Linked DNA regions of Homo sapiens: region 1 is linked to region 2. A link means that fine-mapping ties the variant in region 2 to the expression of a gene that starts in the linked region. Tissue or cell type: whole blood. Region 2 holds a variant in brackets; the other region holds the start of a gene. All regions are shown on one strand. Distances are from middle to middle.

Evidence for each region. PIP is the estimated chance that this variant, and not a neighbour inherited with it, causes the effect.
Region 1: it holds the start of PRAG1, and the variant in region 2 is fine-mapped to the expression of PRAG1 in whole blood (INTERVAL, PIP 0.99).

Annotation. Positions count from the first base shown.
Region 1 is chr8:8,382,899-8,391,001 of GRCh38, reverse strand. It overlaps PRAG1 (PEAK1 related, kinase-activating pseudokinase 1), which reads left to right and starts at 4,563. Exons shown (of 6, transcript NM_001080826.3): 1 at 4,563-4,681. LOC105379222 (a long non-coding RNA gene) reads right to left here and starts at 1,438. Exons shown (of 3, transcript XR_002956679.2): 1 at 1,353-1,438; 2 at 740-815. RefSeq lists a silencer at 4,181-4,860.
Region 2 is chr8:8,314,395-8,322,488 of GRCh38, reverse strand. It overlaps PRAG1 (PEAK1 related, kinase-activating pseudokinase 1), which reads left to right. Exons shown (of 6, transcript NM_001080826.3): 6 at 3,187-4,753. The coding sequence ends at 4,335. It overlaps LOC124901879 (a long non-coding RNA gene), which reads right to left and starts at 2,232. Exons shown (of 3, transcript XR_007060799.1): 1 at 2,172-2,232; 2 at 1,563-1,645; 3 at 596-670. The variant T/G (reference allele first, on the strand shown) is at 4,875.

The DNA of each region.
Region 1 (8,103 bases), 69 kb before region 2:
AGGTCTGGAAGGGAAGGGGTCATGCTTCTTGTTTTTCTTATGGCCTCTTCTGTATTCCTGGGTCCCCCAATTCTTGGCCTCTTCCTATCACTTTTGCGCCTTCTTCACAATACTCCTGCAACCCCTTCATTTGTTCTGGGGGCTCCAAACACCACTTCTGGCAGGATGACTTCATTCACCAAACGGTGGCTACACACTTCCAACCCAACAGACCACAGACTGAATTCTGTGACTTTCCCGTTTGTAATAATGATACCATCATTCTACCGGTCTCTAGGGGCTAAAACTCTACTGGTCACCTTTGATTCCTTCCTCTCTGTCAGTAATAGCACCTACTCCTGTGTTTCTGCGAGGCTTACATGAGAAAAGCCAGGTACATCACTGATCACACAGGGCGTGATGCTGAGTAAGTGCTCCATAATGTAAGGCTTTATTCGTTAATAGATTATTGCTCACAGTGAATCCACGAAGTAACCAATCCCCATTTCTCCCTCTTCATGTCTCTCAAAACCACACACACCATCCATTCTTTCTGTTTCCCTTGCCATGTTCCTTATCAAAACACATCAACTGCCATCTGGACCAGGGATAGGAACGCTAAGCCAGACTCCTTGTCTCCAATCTCTTCTCCCACTTCCTAATCCATCTGGGATACAAGATCCAGAGAAAGCTAATGAAAAACCACCTTAGTGATGTCATTCTGCTGCTCGGAAATGTCAACACTTTCTTGATGGCTCACCTGGAAACGAAGTTCTTCTCTTCTAGTGCCACACTCCATTTCCAGGCCTGTCTCCAAAAACCATGATCCAGCCAGTCTAGAATGCAAAACCTCTGAAAAGTCTTCCGCCTCTCCCACGTCCATTCATTTGCAGATAACATTGTCTCAGTCTGGAAAGTCCCCATCCTCCACAGATTGAAATCGTTCTCATCTTCTAAAGCTCCCCTCCTCTATAGAGCCACTTTCTGTGTTTCTTCTGTCTGTTTCTCCCTTGAACCCCCACTGCCCCGACTTATCTTCCTCTCATAGAGCTTATTTTTTTTTTTTTTTGCTCTTACTCGTCTTTCTTTTCCCAGTAGGACCTCATGCAGTGCTTATAAGTAGAAGTCACTCAATACATATTCGTTGAGAAAACTGAATATCGTTCTCGCTTTTAGGTGAGATGCATGTCTCTATTATTTGAGATGTATGCTCTGGCTGAGGAGATAATATGTGTGGGATTTCTTTGGCTCAATCTTCATACTATCTGACCCCTCTCCAATACCCCAGCTTGTATTTTTGCAGTATAATTTAATGGCACATCCTTCCTAATCCTGCCATTTTGCCTAATTCCAAACTACCTTACTTTACTCACCCCGAAGCACTCCCAGCCTTGACCTCTTGTCCCAGTTTCCTAAAATATAACTGCTCTTGTACGGAATGGTGCCGCTGGACTAAAACTCTGACGAGGAATTGCTGTTCTTCAAGGTCTGGTCTGTATCAGGGAGCCCACGCCCTGCAGTTAAAAGTGTCATAAAAATGGACTGATAAGTAGCTAGAAGCAGAATGCTGTGTCTACACAAATTACACTGCATTGCAGGGTACAGTTTGGAAGTTCAAGCAAGAATTCTTTATGAAAATGAATGAGCTTACCGTAGCTTGACTGAGGATATCATATACTTAACAGTCACTGGTAGAGCACTGCCTAAGAGTGTGGGTATTTTATGTGCATCCCAGTGACTCCTTTGAAGTGTTTCTTGATTCTTTTCATTAGGCAAGATGAAGTCGTCTCTATGGCCATGTTGCTGGCTTTTAAAAAGATGCACATTATATGTCAGCAACTACAGTATAATGCATTTACTTTGTGTGAGCACAGCAAACCACTTAAGAACACACTTTATTTTGTAGACACACTGAATTTACCCTTCAAGTACTGCCCCATGCCACAGAACTACAAGTCTTGCCACATTATGGCTTTCTCTTATAATTATGCTCTTTAGCCTGTTCATGTATTAAGAATAAATTAGGGGCCGGGCGCGGTGGCTCACACCTGTAATCCTAGCACTTTGGGAGGCCGAGGCAGGCAGATAACTTGAGGTCAGGAGTTCAAGACCAGCCTGGCCCAACATGGTGAAATGCTGTCTCTACTAAAAATAGAAAAATTAGCAGGGCATGGTGGTGGCCGCCTGCAATCCCAGCTACTCAGGAGGCTGAGGCAGGAGAATGGCTTGAACCCGGGGAGTGGAGGCTGCAGTGAGACAAGATCTTGCCACTTCACTCCAGCCTGATTGAAAGATGAAACTCCATCCCAGGAAAAAAAAAAAAAAGAATAAGTTAGGTAAAGAGAAGAAAATAAAGTGCAAAAGTAAGTGCTTCTTTTATGTGTTCAGCACAGCCTTTATTCTGTGAGGTCAATGTCTCTCTTACAGAGGAAAGAAGTGAAACATTTAGCCTGAATCCTGAGAACCAGGAACTTCTCAAACATCTTAGTTTGCCCTCTCCCAGTGTAAATGAATTGCACACTTTCTGAAGTCACTTTTGTATTTCTCCATTGCAGACCACTTTGTACCTACCTGTTTAATCAACATCTTCCCCTCTTGAGTCTTGGTAGGGTCTGGATCTTTCAGCTCTGTTGGATGCTCATGAAGTGTAACCAAAGTTTCCCTTCCTTTTTTTTTTTTTTTTTTTTTTGAGACAGGGTCTTGCTCTGATACCCAAGCTGGAGTGTAGTGGTGCGATCTCAGCTCACTGCAACCTCCACCTCCCTGGCTCATGTGAGTCTCCTGCCTCAGCCTCCTGAGTAGCCGGGATTACAGGCGCCCACCACCACACTCGACTAATTTTTGTATTTTTAGTAGAGATGAGGTTATACCACATTGCCCAGGCTGTTCTTGAACTCCTGGCCTCAGGTGATCTGCCAGCCTCGGCCTCCCAAAATGCTGGGATTACAGGTGTGAGCCACCGCGCACGGCCAGTATTTGTTCAAATGATTTCTCTCCACTTAGGGGAGAGAGAAAAATAGGGCTGGACTACCTGCACTTGGCAAGGGCAGAGTGGCAGAGTAGACTTGCCTACCAGCGAAGCCAGACAGCCTTTGGTTCCAATCTTAGTACTACCACTTTTCAGCTGAGGAACCCCAGCAAATTGTGAGGCCCCCGAGCCTCAGTTTTCTTATCTGTAGAATGGGGATAATGATGCTCTCCTCATAGGATTGCTTAGCGCTGGGTAGGTCCTTAAGGAATGTCCATTGCACTCCCATCCCTCTACAGCTTCCCCCAGATTCTGTCCTCTTAGGAGGCATGGGTGTCACTGGAACATGAGGAAGAATTCCCTGGATCCTTTTTTCCCTTTCCTCACACAGAAGCCAAACCTCAAATACACATCTTCCCTCTCTGTCCACACCCACAGCAGCAAAGAGGAGAGCCAGGGATCTGGGGGTGGGGGTGGGGGCCCATCTTCCTCCTCTCAGTGGGTGGGGGCTCGCAGGCTGACTGGCAGAGGACCTTCACTGGAGTCAAAATAAACTGCCTTCCTGGGGAGGGGATAGAGGGCGAGAGAAGCCGCAGGTATTGTTTTGTGGGGGAGGGGGGTCCTCTTCCTATTCCATTTCACTGAATTCTTCCCACCCGGCATGGCCCTGGGAGGTGACCATAGCCCTGGCTCCCCGAGTAAACACCCAGGTCAAGCTACAGGACTGACTGGGTCTTAAGCTATTATACTCCCAGTGAAAAGATTTTTTTAGCCCGAGGACTATCTCGAACTCGTTCTATCTCAGTGAATGACTCACTGGAAACGGTGTAAACACAGGTGTATTACTGGCCTGCGGAAGACTTGGATGTCCCAGCATGGTAGAAGGCCAGGTCCCTGCAGTGCAACGCTTGCATTCTACATCCAGAAAACTAAAGTTCAAAGAGGTTAAGCAATTTGCCAGAATCCTGCAGTCCAGGGACTGAGCGGAACCTGGAATCCGCCACCGGGACTTCCAGCCCTGCTCCCTCCGGCGCCACCCTCTTCCCAGAGGTAGGGAGAGCTGAGGCTCGCTGTGCTCACGTGGCTTTCAGAGCCCGCCTCGGACCCTGACCTGTATTCCACTCCCGACCCCACACTTCCTCGTTTCCCCTTCCTTCTCCCTCTCTTCCCAGGGTCCCGCAGGGCCGGCTGGATGAAGTGATGCCGGGCACCTATACACGCATGATGGCAAAAGGAGGATTGCAACGCCAGAGCTCGCCCCTCCAGAGCTGTGCAGGGTCCCCACCGAGGAGGGGGTGCAAACGGGTGCTGGGCTCGGGGGTCAGCCCGCGCCAAGTCTGGGGCTGGGGGCGGAGCCTGCCGGTCCGGGGCGGGAGGGTGGGCAAGAGAGGGAGTCCCGGGGCCTGGAGACTTTGGAGGAGTCGGGGCCCTGGGGGTAGGAGACCGCCGGGTGGGAGCGGCAGGCGCAAGCCGGGCGGCGGGGCGCGCGGGCCAGGCGGGGCCGGGCGGCGGCAGGGACTGCGGAGGTGCGGCGTGAGCTGGGGCGGGCGGCGTCACCGGAGGCGGAGGGGGCGGAGCCGCGCTCACAGCTGCCACCCGGCCGCCGGGCCCAGGCAGAAGCCACCCGCCCGCGGCCGGGCACGCACCGCGCGCAGACCTTCTGCGAACAATGCTCCGGCCGGGCGGCTGGCGGCTCGGAGACCGACGGAGGGGCCGGGGGAGCGCAGCCCAGAGGTGAGCCCGCGACGCGCTCTCCAAATTCGGCCTCTTTTTGTCTGGCGAGCGTGGTCGCAGAGGGGAGCTTTGGAGGGGCGCTGCGATCGCCGAGCGGGCTACCCCCGGGGTGACAGGCGACCGCTCGGGAAGTGGGCAGTGCCGGGGCCGCGTGAGCCCCGGGTGGTGCCCGAGGTGCAGGGAGGCGCCCGGCCGGGAGGACCGAGGAGCTGGAGGGTGTTTTTGATTCATTCGAGAATCGCGCTCTTTAAAACGGGGAAACTTTCCTACGAGTTCCAGGAGGGAGGACCGACTGTTAGGATGGTTTCTCTGGTCTTGCTGCTCTGTCTGCGGCCGGAGGCTGAAGCGCTTTGAGGACTGCTTTCCACCGCTAGAGTATTGTCAAGGGGGAGAGACGGAAGGCCGCCTGGCTGCTGGGACCAGGACCCGGGGGGATGGTTTGGGGGTGCAGGGTATGCAGCAGCGGGGCTCCAGAGGCAACGAGATGATGCCCTTTTCCCCGAGCCCTGGCTGAGCCCTCTGAAACGCATGCTGTGAGCACGTTATTAACCTTTGCTGGTATCCGGGGACACACACACTTAGAACATAGAATCCTCTGCTGGGCATGGAGGCGGCCGGGCATTCGCAGCGGAGAGCGCCAGCTCACGGTGTGTGCGTTTCTCTCAGGTAAGCTCTCCCTGCACATGGTTTTGCAGAGCCGATAGCAAAGCCCAATGGTCTAGGGGCGAGGAGTTTTGGCGATGCATTCAGTGCGGAGTCAGGCTCAGAAGGCTTTCCTGATCACTGGCCTGAACTATTCTTAACAACTCCTCTCCCCTTCCCTTTCTGAGAAGAAAATTTGACAGAAAGCCCTAGGGAATTCCGCAGTTATTTTTCTCTCCTGAGGTCTGGTTGGTTTCGACTGTAGTGGGTGCAAAACCACATTCCTCCCTCTGAGATTTTCTTTCCTCCAGCACTGGAGGAAGAAAAAAGAAAAGGAAAAGTTGGGTGAATATCGTAATTTACCCTCTGCGTGAGTAGGGAGGCAGGGGGCTAGTGGGTGGTAAAGTTGTCACTTTCTCCTTTCTGCCTGGTCAGCCCTGGCCAGTGGAGTGTGCTGAAGTTCAGACACTTTCCACACATATTTCTTTCCTTTTACTGGCGTTGCATTAATTTAACTGTAACATACAGAAAAAAATTTTAGGTGAATGTTTTCTGCAATTCTGTCACTTCAGAATAAGGCATAAGCAACTTCTGATGTAAGTCTGAGGGGGTATTTTGGGCCAAAATATTTAATCTTAAAGATCTGGCCACCTTGATTCTTCAGATTCTTTTTTGAAATGGGGTGGGAGTGTATCTGACAGCTTCAGTCTTGCAAACTGTAGCCACAAATCTAGTGCAGAAGTTTGCAGAGGCAAAGACATTTTTTTCATGACTTGGATCAGAAAGAATGCTGAGCTCTTTTTTCTAATCTGACACTGCAGCCTCCTACTGAAATGGGGAGGATTTGCATAATTCTGGGGGCTGCCTCCCCTCAGAAGTAAGGAATGTGGGCTGCGAAGTGCCTTCCCCATGCTGTGGAGAGCTGGCACTGCTGCACCAGGCAAGGCGAGGCAAGGCTTTGTGGGTGCCACTTGTGTTTCTCACCATCTTTTACTTAAAACAAATAGGAGATAATTCCAGGCACAGAAGTGCAACGGGAAAAGAGGTTTTTTTTTTTTTTTTTTTTTTTTGGCTGCATGCGGTGGTAAATTCTGTTTGCTGCGACTGAGAAACCAGTTTTAACAGGATGCAGTGAGTCAATGACAGTGGGAAGCCCAGGGCTTCATTTGTTCTTTTCTTATTCAATGACTTCCCTTTAAAAATCTTTGCGTCCATCCGTCCCTGGCAGTCGTGTGATGAAAGTTGCCTCTCTAAACATCCAAGGATTTCTGAGCTGAGAATGGGAGCAAAGAGTGCTCGTAAACTGATGAGACATTCTCAAGGAAACTTCCCCCACGCTAGCAATCCAGATCCTTCCACACTCCCTTTGCACAGGGCTGTGCAAAGGTTGGGGAATCTTAGAAAGTAGGGCCTCTGATACCAATGTCACCCCTTCCGCAAAAACAAGTTTGTGTTCTTACTTGCCTGTTGAGGAGGCAATAAGTCGCCAAGCAGAACTGCTGCTTTGTGAATCTGTGATAGACCCTGAGGAAGTGGTTGGGCACCCACCTCCTCAGATAGCCCAGTGTCAGGAGGAGCTGTGGGAACTTGCAGAGCCCACACAGAGCTGGTTTCCAAACTGTCTTCCTCCATCCCGCGGAGCAGGCATGGGAGCATCTGCCTGCAGTGGAGGTGGGCTGGACAGTGTCCTTTCTGTGGCCTAGAAGGTGTAGACAGTCTTCACCCATCAGCGTCCCAGGAAGGGACCTACTGCCTATTCCTGAAGGCTGGAATACTTCCTCTGCTTTTTCCCCCTCCCAAAACTTAGCAGCAAGGCTACAGTTCTCTGTGGCCTGAGATTATAAGAGAAAGACAAAACCTGGCTATTTCCTCCGCTTGTTGAAGCCCAGTGACCTCTTCTGGAGAACTTGGCAAAGAAGGAACCTGCTACTTGGGTGTATTTGGAGGAGGAGAAGAACCTAGCTAACAGTCTTCTTAAAGAAAAGGACCTGTGAGACCCTAACAATAACTGCTAAAAGATACTTTTCTTTTATTTCAGAGGATTTATTTAGCTTAAAGATGCAGTGGGCTTTATTCTTAACTTTTTTTTTGTTTTTTTAGACAGGGTCTCACTCTAGTCACCCAGGCTGGAGTGCAGTGGTGTGATCATGGCTCACTGCAGCCTTGACCTCCTGGGCTCAGGCAGTCCTCCTACCTCAGCCTCCCAAGTAGCTGGGACCACAGGCATGCATGGCTACACCTGGATAGTTTTTTTAAATAATTATTATCTTTGTAAAGACAGAGTGTCTCTGTGTTACCCAGGCTGGTCTCAAACTCCTGGGCTCAAGCGATCGTCCTGCCTCGGCCTCCCAAAGTGCTGGGATTACAGGCGTGAGCCACCGCGCCTGGCCTCAACCCATTTTTCACTTTGGAGGGAAAAGAGGCACACGTAGCTTCAGCACTTGTTGAATGAACACCCCTGTCTATGAGTGTGGAGATAAAAGAGAGCACTTCCCACAAACACTCTGGAATGATTTTTGGGGTACCCGGCTCATTCCACCTGGTTAGTCCTGTTGACAGTTTAGAGATTATCAAACTTAAGGCAGATCCTTATGGGAGGAAAGTGGAGAGAAAACCCTAAGGCAAAATGGTCCCTATTTAATGAGAACCTATTCACCCTTATGTTCTTAAGGAAGATTTTGCTCTTGAACATTCTCCTTATGGGAAGTCAGTTTATTTTAAATAGGCTAAGAAGAGCCAGGAGCAATGCGCAAATCACCACTGCAGGGAGGAGCCGCCTG
Region 2 (8,094 bases):
GGCCTTAGAATTTTATTTTTGGGTTTACATGTTGGTGATTTTGCTGTTTAAAATGGCCCAAGCTGGATCACCTGAGGTCAGGAGTTCGAGACCAGCCTGGGCAACATGGTGAAACCCTGTCTCTACTAAAAATACAAAAATTTAGTCGAGTGTGGTGGCAGGCACCTGTAATCCCAGCTACTCAGGAGGCTGAGGCAGAAGAATCGCTTGAACCCGGGAGGCAGACATTGCAGTGAGCCGAGATCGTGCCACTGCACTCCAGCCTGGGCGACAGAGAGACTCCATCTCAAAAACAAAACAAAACAAAACAAAACAAAACTATATATATAAAATAAAATGGCCGAAGCATAGGGCTGAAGTGCTGTCTAGTGTTCCTAACCACCACAAGGCTGGGATGTGCCTCATGGGTAAAAACATATGTGTTAGATAAGCATTTTTCAGGGATGAGCTCTAGTGCTGTTGCCCGTGAGTTCCTCTTAATGACTCAACAAGGTATGTTAAACAAGGTATCTCTAAACAGAAGCATACATGAAACAAGGTTGAATACTGGTGGGTTAATGAAAATATTGTGACCAGAGGTTCCCAGGAAACTTACCTTGTATTTCCCCTAGGAAAAACGGTTCACTATTCACTAATTCAGTGTTTATGGCTTCTTCACAGAACATAACTCCTGCAAATAATGAAAATCCCCTGTAACTTGACAAAGGTTACAGAGCTAATACTTAAACCCAGGCCTTTTTTCACTCCAGAGCCCATGCTTTTGACCTCTGCAACACTTCTCGGTTGTATAGTCCTGAGCAAATAATTTAACTTCTGGAAGCCCCAGTTTCCTCCTCTGTAATAGCATCTTCCTCCTTGGATTTAATGAGATTGAATGAGATGCTGCATGGAACCCTCACAGTTGGCACAGTACTTGCACATGCAAGAGCCCAGTCTGTAATCTGTTAGGGGTGAGACAATAACAGTGATGTCCTCCCACATCTCCACTGACAACACAGCGTATATGCAAGATGCTTTCTTTGAGGACTTCCCCCACCACCATTGCTGCAAATTTCCTTTAGTTTAATAGTGCTCCAGAAGCCTGCCATTTAAAAACCAAGTGCAGGCCAGGCACCGTGGTTCACGCGAGTAATCCCAGCACTTTGGGAGGCCGAGGTGGGAGGATCACTTGAGCCCAGGAGTTCAAGACCAGCCTGGGCAACATGGCAAAACCTTGTCTGTACAAAAATTCCAAAAATTAGTTGGACATGGTGGTGCACACCTCTAGTCCCAGCTACTCGGGAGGCTGAGGTGGGAGGATCGCTTAAACCTGGGAGGTCAAAACCGCAGTGAGCTGTGATTGCACCACTGCACTCCAGCCTGTCTCAAAAAGTAAAAAATAAAAACCGAGTAGAGTTGGGTAGTCCGGAATAAGAAAGAGCCTGAACAATGCCTTTTAGGCATGTATTTCAAAATCATTTTTGTTAGTGTAATAGGAAGCAATGTCTGGGGTAAATGTCTTTCCTTTTTATTACCATTCTGCTTTTATAATAGACAGATTACTAAATTAATGTGTTACCCACCATTCCCGACAATTAGCTTTAAAAACATCTCTTGGAGGCCAAGCTCTTGTATGCCAGGTTTCATGCTGAGAAGCTTTGCATAGCTGCAATATAAATAAATCTCCGTGAAAAGGTGCTTGCAGTAGAACTTCTAAAAGTATCGCCTGTAAGCATTGAGGTACTTCAAAAACACTGCTTCATCATCATTCCAACACTGCAGCCTGAAGGCAGGGTTATTTTAGGAGTGTTTGCAGGATAATATTTTATAGGTAGATGTGAGATGCCTTTCTTCTCACATCTGATCTTTGTCTTTCTACATTACACATTGATCTTTGTCTTTCTACAAAGCCTGGGTGAGGTTGCATAATATTCATTTGAGAGAGGGGACTTCAGTCCCTTTCAGGGTAATGACAGGGAGATTGAGGCCTGACAGAGGGCCATTACGGCTGGTTCAAGACTCTCTAGTTGAGTGGCAGCCAGATGAGGACTAGGATTGCTAGAGATCCCCAGGTGGCTGGCACTGCCATTTGTACAAGAAGAAATGGAGGAGGCGAGAAAGACAGAGTTGTGTGGATCCCCAGCTATGCTTCCCACAGAGAAGCCTGAGACCTTCCATCTTGTTTTTCCTACCTTCATCTCAGATGGTGCCCTGGGGTTCCTCTGAGGGTTCCTTCTGGTTCCTTCTTCCTTGGAGAGCTTTCTGGTTTCTTTCAGCTGCTGTGACTCACCTTGAAGGAAAAGTATGTGGGAAGTGAGGCTGCTTTCTTATAAACACTATTTGCCTTCTTGAGAATTTGTCCATACTGTGCACAGAGGGATGTCTTCCTACCAATACCTCCCGACCACACTGTGTGTTGCTCGGCAGGGACCCCACTCACTGGGTCATATGGTCATTTTATGTTTAACTTTTTAAGAAACTAACAAACTGCTCCAAGGGGTCTGCCCCATTTTACATTCCCATCAGCAATGTCTGAGGTTTCCCATTTCTGCTCATCCTCATAGACACTTGGAATTGTCTTTTATTAGAACCCATTCTAGTGGGCGTGAACTGATATCTCACTGTGGTTTTGATTTGCACTTGCCTGATGAATAATGATGTCCAGCATCTTTTCACATGCTTGTGGCCATTTACAAATTTTTTTGGTGAATTACCTATTCATATCTCTTGCCCACGTTTTTTTGTTTGTTTGTTTGTTTTTTCCTCCATGCCATGATTCTGTATCCTTTTTTAATTGGGCTGTTTGTCTTACTGAGTTGTAAAAGAGTGTTTTTTAATACAAATTCCAGAAACAAGTCCTTTATTACATACATTTTGGCAGATATTTTCTCCCAGTCTATTACTTGTCTTTCCACTTTCTTAATGGTGTCTTTTGAAGCACAAAAGTTTAGAACTTTGAGGTTAAGTTTGTGATTTTTCTTTTCTTTTGTGAACTATGCTATTGGTGTGATATTTAAGAAATCTTTGCCCAACCCAAGGCCTCAAAGATTCTGTCCCATGTTTTCTTCTAGCATGTGTATGGATTGCTCTTACCCTTAAGCCTATGTGGATAGGCTTATTGCACGTAGATACTCAAATGTTTCCACACTCTTTGCTGGGCGGAACCATGGGCCCCACTCTTGATTTCACTTCTTCTTCTCTCCACAGATCTGCAAAGCCCCTGAGCCCAAAACAGTCTCCTACTGCAGCCCGTCCGTGCCCGTGCACTTTAACATCCAGCAGGACTGCGGCCACTTCGTCGCCTCGGTGCCGTCCAGCATGCTCAGCTCCCCCGACGCGCCCAAGGACCCTGTGCCTGCCCTGCCCACACACCCCCCTGCCCAGGAGCAGGACTGCGTGGTGGTCATCACCCGAGAGGTGCCACATCAGACCGCCTCCGACTTCGTGCGGGACTCGGCGGCCAGCCACCAGGCGGAGCCCGAGGCGTACGAGCGGCGCGTGTGCTTCCTGCTTCTGCAACTCTGCAACGGGCTGGAGCACCTGAAGGAGCACGGGATCATCCACCGGGACCTGTGCCTGGAGAACCTGCTGCTGGTGCACTGCACCCTCCAGGCCGGCCCCGGGCCCGCCCCCGCCCCCGCCCCGGCTCCCGCCCCCGCCGCCGCCGCGCCTCCCTGCTCCTCTGCCGCCCCGCCTGCTGGTGGCACTCTCAGCCCCGCAGCCGGCCCCGCCTCCCCGGAAGGGCCCCGGGAGAAGCAGCTGCCCCGGCTCATCATCAGCAACTTTTTGAAGGCCAAGCAGAAGCCGGGCGGCACCCCAAACCTGCAGCAGAAGAAGAGCCAGGCCCGGCTGGCCCCCGAGATCGTGTCTGCTTCCCAGTACCGCAAGTTCGATGAGTTCCAGACAGGCATCCTCATCTACGAGCTGCTGCACCAACCCAACCCGTTCGAGGTGCGCGCCCAGCTGCGGGAGAGAGACTACCGGCAGGAGGACCTGCCGCCGCTGCCCGCGCTGTCCCTCTACTCACCCGGCCTGCAGCAGCTGGCACATCTGCTACTGGAGGCCGACCCCATCAAGCGTATCCGCATCGGCGAGGCCAAGCGCGTGCTGCAGTGCCTGCTGTGGGGGCCTCGGCGCGAGCTGGTGCAGCAGCCGGGCACCTCGGAGGAGGCGCTGTGCGGCACGCTGCACAACTGGATCGACATGAAGCGGGCCCTGATGATGATGAAGTTTGCGGAGAAGGCGGTGGATCGCAGGCGGGGCGTGGAGCTGGAGGACTGGCTTTGCTGCCAGTACCTGGCGTCTGCGGAGCCCGGGGCCCTCTTACAGTCGCTGAAGCTCCTGCAGCTTCTGTGAGCCAAGCCCCAGCCTGCACCGTCGCTGCCCCTTCCCTGCCTAACCCTTTCCTGTCTCGCCTTGGAAGCACCCATGTCTCCCTGGGAAATGGTACAGATGACTGGGATACCTGGATGTAAAATATATAAATATATATATAGAAAATACATATACCATATATAAATATGAAAGACTAAGGATGCTGTTGCCCGTCCACACTCGTCTCCTCTCTGCACTAAGTCCTCCCTGTTTTCTTCTGTAATTATACACATTTCCAGTTCCATGCAACGTCCTGAGGACAGTTCTGTGAACTGAATGCAGCCTGGACACTGGCCTCAATACCTTGTTTAGGATTTCTTCACCCTTTTGTCAAATTGTTATTTAAAGAAAAAAAAAAAAGAAGAAAATTCCATTAAAATTTTTTTTGGTTGAGTCATGAGCAAAGCTCTTTATCCTTAAGTGCCTGAGTGTATTAATATGTTTGGTGGGTAAAACGGAGCTGTCTTTGGTCTTAACGCTTTTCAGGAGATAGAGCAGCAGTCTGCAAAGGACCAGGCAAG[T/G]GGGTACCAATTCATCTTCCCTGTTTCTCTTCCCACCTGGCAGCCTTCTGGAAAGAATCCAGACACAGCCGCTGTGATCCCAGTGGTTTGGAATTCAAACCCATTTCCAGTTTGCTAAAGCTGGTTGCCATTTGTAAAATTCAGAGACGTGCCTGAAAACAGAGTCCACCCCAGATGGCTCAGATGAAAAGAACTTAAGGGGACCACTTAGCTAGGTGTGATCAGGGTTATGAGAACAAAGGGTGACAAGGCCAAAAGCAAGGGCCAGAACAGCAGGACAGGGGAACATACAGGAGGTATTCGCGCTGAGATCTCTACAGCCGGAGATGGGAGTCTCTGTTTCCCATCTGTCATCTCCAACCTAATAGGATGCCAGACAGCAAGGGACCTTGGGTGATGCAGTCTGGAGGATCAGCCTCCTGGGGCAGGGAGGAGGGAGAGAATGCATGGGACGCCAGGTGGCAAACGGCCCACTGTTCCTACCGTACTAGATACTGGCAGGGCAAGCATAGAATTCAGGTGTTTCAACTCCCAGGCCAGTACTCCCTCTGCTGTTCGGGCCTCCTTCAAGTCTCCTTTTCTAAAACCTCATTTAACGCACCCATTGGCACCTACAGCTTACTGGAGTCAATGTTTGTTACTATGCCTTTAAAAACACACAAGGAAAATTAGGAGGCATCAGATCTTTCCTCCTCAAAACTAGACACAGGCACGAAAGTCAAAAATTACCTATTTGAAGAGAAATAGCCCCAAGACTCTTGTATTTCTACCTAATGGGTAATCTTCCAACTACAGAACTAATTGATTTCTAAAACCTTGTGAATAACTCTGGACAAATTAAAACAAATACAAAGATCTGAATGGATGTTTTAGAAACCTGGGGATGCACTTAGCAGGAAGGATAGGGAACTCTCCCAGGTCCTCTTCTGCATATTAATTTCAATCCTTTTGTGAGTTCCACCTTCCAGCCCCTGACTACATGTAAACACATTCATCTTTCCATGCATCGTTGGTGAAGACAGCACCTGGGGCGCATTTGTAATTTCAATTGTTTCCTGAGCATTGAGGAAAGAACTGAACCAAAACCAGCTCCCAACCCGTTTGTACAAGAGAAGGAGTCTGCAAACGTGGAAATCATATTTCTCCCCAGGACCTATCTGTTTCGGGGGGGCATTATTTGCCAGTTCTTTCTTTGTCCCTCGGAATTTTCCAGGCAAACCTTCTGCCATCAATTTGCTGTCTTTTGCTTTTTTGTCCTTTTTCACTTCAAGTAAATAAACAATGGAGAGGGAGGAGCAAATATTCTGACAGGGGAATGCAGTGCCATTAGAAAATAAGGCCCAGCGTGGTGGCTCATGCCTGTAATCCCAGCAATTTGGGAGGCCAAGACATGTCAATCACCTAAGGTCAGGAGCTTGAGACCAGCCTGGCCAACATGGAGAAACCCTGTCTCTACTAAAAATACAAAAATTAGGTGGGTGTGCATGCCTGTAATCCCAGCTACTCAGGAGGCTGAAGCAGGAGAATCACTTGAACCCAGGAGGTGGAGGTTACGGTGAGCCAAGATCATACCACTGCATTCCAGCTTGGGTAACAAGAGTGAGACTCTATCAAAAAAAAGAAGAAAGAGAAGAAAAGAAAAGAAAGAAAAAGAAAGAAATAAAGGAAAAAAGAGAAAGAAAGAGAAAAAAAGAAAGGGAAAGAAAGAAAGAAGGAGAGAGAAAGAAAGAAAGAAAGAAATGTCTTAGGAGCCACATTTTTAATTCCTGAATTAATTGCAACTTTTTTATACCACCCACTTCAGAAAAAAAAAATGAGGTTGTAAAAACTGTTCTAAGAACCAACATGAACCAAAAAATAAAGGATAAAGAAGAAACAATAGCAATAAATTCTGAATGAGAGGAATAAGAGCAATTAAACATAAAACTTACTTCTGAGCTGTCCACCAACCTATAAAAAGAAAACTGGTTGCAGAATTCTTTTTTGTGTGCAATTTTAGGAAACAGTTCGTCAGAAGGAAGAAATTTTTGCCCAGTGCTTGGTTCTGAAGGAAATTTGTCAAGGATTCTTTGTTTGAAGACATTGAATAATGCCCCAATAGCAGTTTTAAAAAGAAAAAAAAAAAAAAAGAATTTTTTGAACATAGGTGTCATGAGCGATGCCAGGTTAAAAATAACCAGGTCCACACATGCTTGTGTCTTTCCAGAATGTCAGGCTTTTATTGATGCTAATTCAGTCACAAAAGCCAGAGGCTACATGGAGTTCCCAAGGAAGCAATTCTCTTTAGTACCTCCTGTTCTCTTGGTAGTCAGAGCCGCAGGCACACAGGCTTGAGCCACTCCACAAGTCAGTCAATATGGGAAACCATACATAATAGTATGCTTAATCAATATACATATATTACAGATTAAACATTCCACAATAAACAAAGTAGCATTGAACATGAAGAGGAGAAAGAGATAGGAGAAAGGTTAAGGAACCAGTCCAGTGGGAGCAGGTCAGTCTTGCAAGGAAAAGTGTTTGAGGTGGCAGAAGCAGATGCCAAGTTCTTATCATGAGTGACTGCAAGACAGTATCAGTTAAGACAGCCCCATTTCGAGCTGCTGAAGGCCTGACATTTTAAAGTCACAGAGGCCTCTGGTGAGAACTGATCTTGGACGAGTGTCCTTGTTTGTGTCTTTATCTGATTGGATGCAATCTTTATCTTTTTTATTTATTAAACAAAACATCTTATCCTTGTTGGCAAAGTGCCCTCTGAAACATAAAATGAAGTCTTATTCTAAGATGGAGTTTGTTATATCAAGGGTACTCTATACAATAGGGCATTTTTTTATCGCTACCATTGGTGAAGTTTAAATATGGAGTGTTAAAATCTAGTTTCCTCAAGTTCTCTGGAAATGCTTGCCTACTCACTCCTCTCCGTGGATTGGCCTTTTCCATAAATGATTAGTCATGTGGCTGTAAATATTAGGTTTAGCAAACAACTTCATTCGCACTAAATTCAGAGGTTCAATATAACTGGTTTTTTGTTACTTCAAAATACACCTAGGCTGCATGGCTTTGTCTCACAGAAGACTCTAGCATGATATCCATTATGCCCAGAAACGATAGTTTGTTCTGCAGGACTGAGGTTCAGAAATAATCAGGGACTTTTGTACGAGGACAGTTGCAGGATCTGGCAATTTAATACTCCTGTTATCAGTGAGTTCATCTCCCATTT